Linked DNA regions of Homo sapiens. The protein of the gene in region 1 purifies or fractionates together with the protein of each later gene. This does not show direct contact. Each region holds a gene or a part of one and is shown on either strand. Other genes may lie near its edges.

Region 1 (3,500 bases):
TAAACATCTCTTTATTGATTCGACTTTTTTTAGTGTATACATAAAGTGGTTTTTGAAATGCAAAACCACCCAAGATTACTACATACTGTCACTGTAATCATAAAAAGACATTTAAGATATTATTACTTTATTCATTCATGTTATATAGCTTAGACTTCATCACTCAGATTAGTATATATACCAGCTTGGCTTCTTCACTTTGGGAAAAATATAATAAATAATGCACAATAAAACAACAATAAAAAAATCTATTGGCATGGCTTAACATTATCCTGAAATACAATGCTTTTTTTTTTTTTTTTTTTTTTTGAGATGGAGTCTTGCTCTGTCGCCCAGGCTGGAGTGCAGTAGCACGATCTCGGCTCACTGCAACCTCCACCTCCTGGGTTCAAGCAATTCTTCTTCTTCAGCCTCCCTAGTAGCTGGGATGACAGGCGTGTGCCACCATGCCCAGCTAATTTTTTTTGTATTTTTAGTAGAGACAGGGTTTTGCCATGTTTGCCAGGCTGGTCTCAAACTCCTGACCTCAGGTGATTCACCTGCTTTGGCCTCCCAAAGTGCTGGAATTACAGGTGTGAGCCACCGTGCCCGGCCTACAATGCCTTATAATTATCTTTTCTTTCACACAGTTCTACATTCTCTCCATCAGGTGTGGGAATAACAAGTATGTGAATGGACTGAAAAGAAAATACCAATTTATGAAAGAATGTTTCTACCTCAGAAAGTTGATGTAAGTATTAAGTAAATTTACAAATCCTCTACCAGAGTGCTGGCACGGAATTGCTCATTACATGGTAGCTACTGTTACCAATTCATCTCTGCTGAGTTCAGTGGCAATACAAGAATAAAATATGTCACTTTGGGAGGCTGAGATGTCAGATCACAAGGTCAGGAGATCGAGACCATCCTGGCTAACATGGTGAAACCCAGCCTCTACTAAAAATACAAAAAATTAGCCGGGCGTGGTGGCGGGCGCCTGTAGTCCCAGCTACTCGCTACTCAGGAGGCTTAGGAAGGAGAATGGCATGAACCTGGGAGGCAGAGCTTGCAGTGAGCTGAGACTGTGCAGCCTGGGCGACAGAGCGAGACTCTGTCTCAAAATAACAATAAAATATGCTAGCAGAAACAAACATACCGGTCCTGCATACAAAATAAAAGGGTTTCTTTCAGGCCAGGCGTGGTGGCTCAGGCCTGTAATCCCAGCACTTTTGGAGGCTGAGGCAGGTGGAACACGAGGTCAGGAGATGGAGACCATCCTAGCTAACACGGTGAAACCCCATCTCTATTAAAAATACAAAAAATTAGCCAGGTGTGGTAGCACACACCTGTAGTCCCAGCTACTTGGGAAGCTGAGGCAGCAGAATCGCTTGAACCCGGGAGGCAGAGGTTTCAGTGAGCCGAAATTGTGCCACTGCACTCCAGCCTGGGCGTCAAGAGTGAGACTCTGTCTCAAAAAAAAAAACAAAAAACAAAAAACAAAAAAAGGGTGGGGGAGGTTATTTCAAAGCTGCACATGTAGTACCTTAAATGTATGGGGCAACCAAGAAGAGGCAATAAAAAGTACCAAGTAAGAAAACAGTACACATTTTCTAAACAAAATTAAACCTCTGACTCTCCCAGCCAAAGTCAATCTCACTCTCCTCTGCGTATCCACAGCACCGTTAATCCTTCTGGTAGCACCCATAACTAACATGCACATTAAAAAATTTATTTTGTCACTGTTTTAGTAAGGATACAAACCCTCTACTAAAATTTACATTTTTGTACACCTTTGAATTAGCATGGTGTGGTAAGTAAAGCAATGCAAGTGAAGTGAGAGTTGTAAATTTATGACTGTGCACTCAGAGATCCTCAGTTTCCTCAACTCTAAAATAGTAACACTGACTTCCATAAAATTTCTGCTCCCTATCTACTTTAAAGAGCTGTTCCTGAGGATCAAGTTGATTTTCCAGGGGTAAAGGCTATATAAATTATAAAGCAATACATAAACAAAAGGTATAATTATTTTGTTTCAGTGTTTTTGAACATGTATTCAGTAAAACTAGATGGCTTAAGGATGACCTTGGCTACAAAATCTATTCAAACTACTTGTGTACCAAGAAGCACAGTGATACACACACTTTGTTTACTGCAAAAAATGCATTTCTAGAAATGAGAGTACTGTCTGAACAAGCACTATACAAAATCTACAGCATGGTCCCTATGGAGCTGCAGGTATTTTAAGTTGGTAAGTACCCTTTACATCCCCTGAAGACACAGGTATTTTTGGCCGTGATTCTCTGACTACTTTTCTCATAACATTTATATAACAGTCATTACTTTAAAGGTCGCAATAATATTTAAGATGACCTTTATTTTGGTAAAGAACTGCTAGATGAGTTTCAAGTCAAAGCTAAGTCTGGGGGTGAGGGGTGGGGAAGAACTGCTAGAGATTCCTGATCCCTCTGGTCCCCTGACCATGTCCTTGACACACTCCTCAAGCCTCCATATTGTGAGCATTTCTTTGTTCAATGCCTAAACAACTTGGAAAGTTATTTCAATGAATAACAGAGGCAAATTATATTTGAGTTTGTATATTGAAGCCCGTTAATTGACTTCATCTAGATGTTTCACAGACAGCTAAGTTCAACATACTGCTTTATTTCCACTGCCATCAGTAAGCCACCAAACTCCAGAGCAAGACCTCCGAGGCCCCACTTAAGTTTAATTCTATTGACTTCTCAGAGCTCATCTCTATTAGTCTCTCCCTTGCTCACTCTGCACCTGATATACTGGCCTCTCTTCTGGCCCTCAAATAAATCAAGCTCATTTCCTTCTTAGGGACTTTGCATATACTCTCCAGTCTAAGTGGGGATGCCTTTGCACCCAGATCTTTGCATAGTTGATTCCTTTGTAATATTCTGGTCTGAGTTCAAATCTCTCCTCTTTAGAAATGCCATTCCTGACCATCCCATCTAAAAGCTCCCCTCAATATATCACTGTATCATCACCTAGTTTTGTCTTATTTGTCTTAAATTACTTTGTCCTTTTATAATTTGGTCTTCACCTCACTTCTGAAGGTAAAGTGCCATGAAAGTAGGGATCTTGCCTATTATGTTCACTGCTGTATCTCTAGTACCGTAACAGTGCCTAATAACTCAATAACAGTGCCACTCAATAGCATATGCTTAATAAATCAAAGTTTAAAAATAAAAAATGATTTCATCTTCCAGTCTTGCTTCTGCTAATGTCCCTGTTTCAGTAAATGCTACCCCTATTCTCCTTGTTATCCACACTGAAAACCTTAAAATGTCATCTTTTAGGCTACTTCTTTACTCATTACATCCAGTGATGACCAAATTTTGAAGACACTACTGCCTAACAGCTCTTACGCTAACCTGTTTCCAAGCAAGATTATCATCTTGATCCAAGCCCTTGTTCAATCTGTGCCTCTACCAACCTAAATTGAGCTTTCCCTCCTTTCTCATCCTTCACACTGCTGCCAGAAAAATAAAAAAGTA
Region 2 (2,427 bases), on another chromosome or scaffold:
TGTACTGGCTGAAGGGTGGTGAGTGATGAGGGTATTGGTATATGAAATGAAATCAGAGAGCTAGGCAGGGGCCAGATTGTATAGGCCTTCACATTCTTTTTTTAAATGTAGTGGGAAGCTATTCCAGGTGTTTTAAACAGGGCCGTGCCATATATTTTAAAGATCTCTTTGGCTGTTGTGTGGGGAACGGATTGTAGGAACAGGTGGAAACCAGTTGGATTGTAGTAAGTAGTCCATGATAGCTGGACTAGACTAGTAGCAGAGAAATGGAAGAGGAGTGAACAGAAGCTAGCTGATAGACTGATGTAGGTGGAGAGAAAAGAATCAAGAAAGAACCCTGGTTTTTTTTGGTTTGAGTTCCTAGGTAGCTCAGATGTCCATTGAGCGGCTACAATGTGCCGGAGCTGTCCTAGGCCATTTGCTGAGCTGAGTTTTTTACTCACGGAGAGCTCCACTTCCAACAGACACAGTTCCTTCAGCCACTCACCTCCTTTTTGGCAGGGTTTACATCCTCAGGCAGCTCCTGATTCTGGTTTTTCAACAGAACTGCTATAGGGTAATATTTTGGCTCACTGTCATTAGAATTCAGGGAGAGGGTTGCATTCTTCATGTCCTAGGTAAGATAAGAATGTAGGCACAGGGAAAAGACTCCTCAGTGTCTGTGTGGTTACAGTTCTGAATGTGTATAATATTTAACATTTTGACTTATGCCACTTCACCCTCTGTAATCATCTTTGATAACAATGCTCCCCAAACCTGGCTGCATGTCAGAATCATCTGGGAATAGAAAATATTCAGATTTTGGGGTTGTTCTTGGGAAAGCTGATTCAGTAAGTCCAAGGCAAGTCCTGTATAGCTAGTTTGGCATACATCTTGTGTCTGGATCTCATTTGAATATTGGGATCACATACCTTCTCTTGGTACTTTTATTTAGCCCTGCATTTCCAGCCTTTAAATGACTTTAGGTTGTAGTCCTACTTAAATACAATTTAAAGATACTACATCAACATTAGCTTTGGAATCTGAGTTTGTAGAGCACAAAGGACAGAATTGCCAGATGGTTTGAACACCTGGTGCCATGCACTCCTCCTGAGGTTAAAGAACTGCTGGATTCCTGGCTAGAGGCTCCACTTCTTTTAACCATTAAAATAGGTGTAAATGGCCTAAGTTTCTGTGGACTTCACTGTCAGAAATGAATAAAAATGTCATTTGGGTTAGAAGCTTATTTCTGAAAAATACTGCCAATGACTTTAATCTCTCCTTAAACGGCAGAGTTGAATAATAAAACAAATATTCATTTTTTTGTTGTTGTGTTTTTGAGACGGACTCTCGCTCTGTTGCCCAGGCTGGAGTGCAGTGGTGCCATCTCAGCTCACAGCAACTTCCGCTTCCTGGGTTCAAGCAGTTCTCCTGTCTCAGCCTCCCGAGTAGCTGGGACTACAGGCGCATGCCACCACGGCCGGCTAATTTTCATATTTTTAGTAGAGACGGGGTTTCACCATATTAGTCAGGCTGGTCTCAAACTCCTGACCTTAGGTGATCCACCCGCCTTGGCCTCCCAAAGTGCTGGGATTACAGGCATGAGCCACCGCGCCCGGCCCCATTTTTGTTGTTTTTACACAGCAAGTCTGTTTGAAAATCTGGAAGTCAGGAAAATAAGGAACTTGGCTCTGAGACCTGCTTTTCTATTGATTACAAAAAGTCTTTACATCAAAACAGACAACTATGGTAATACTAAGGACATGAGTTTTGCCTGTGAGCATCTGTAGCATTTGTGTGTTCTCTGGCTCTGGTTGCCCATGTGGCTGGCTTCTCCCAAGAGCGAACCCGACTCACAGCAGTGATTCGCATGATAGCAGCAGCATCTCCCAGCTCTTCTTTTAATTGTTCATATGTTTTTCCTGCCTGAGAAGAAGAGAGAGAAAACACAGGATGAGGTCTTTCTTATAGGGGAGGGACATCTTAGGTCTGGTCTGTGTCTTCAGGAAAAGCAAAAGAGCCAGGGAGTCAGAAGACATTTCAAGGATAAGTAAAAATGAAAATCCCCCCTTTTGGGTCCATGCAGGCTTGAAAGGTGCTTAAACATAACGCACATTCTTTGATGGTAACCCCTCAGTCCTCCCAATAAGATTTAAGAAAGAGCAGTTGAAGGCCAGGCACAGTGGCTCATGCCTGTAATCCCAGCACTTTGGGAGGCTGAGGCGGGTGGATCACCTGAGGTCAGGGGTTCAAGACTAGCCTGACTAACATGGTGAAACCCCATCTCTACTAAAAATAGAAAAATTAGCTGGGCATGGTGGTGCATGCCTATAATCCCAGCTACTTGGGAGGCTGAGGCAGGAGAATTGCTTGAACCCAGGAGGTAGAGGTTGCAGTGAGCCGAGATTGTGCCATTACACTCCAGCCTGGACAACAAGAGCGAAATTC

The links. Proteins that work in one complex are often made in the same cells at the same time.
Region 2: the proteins of SP4 (region 1) and AVIL purify together in Homo sapiens (affinity purification with mass spectrometry; one large-scale study listed by BioGRID and IntAct). This does not show direct contact.

The regions. Positions count from the first base shown.
Region 1 is NC_000007.14:21,473,083-21,476,582, reverse strand, and holds part of SP4 (transcription factor Sp4), read right to left. Parts: intron 1-3,500. UniProt on the Homo sapiens protein: Binds to GT and GC boxes promoters elements. Probable transcriptional activator.
Region 2 is NC_000012.12:57,799,308-57,801,734, forward strand, and holds part of AVIL (advillin), read right to left. Parts: intron 1,906-2,427; coding exon 1,837-1,905; intron 614-1,836; coding exon 488-613; intron 1-487.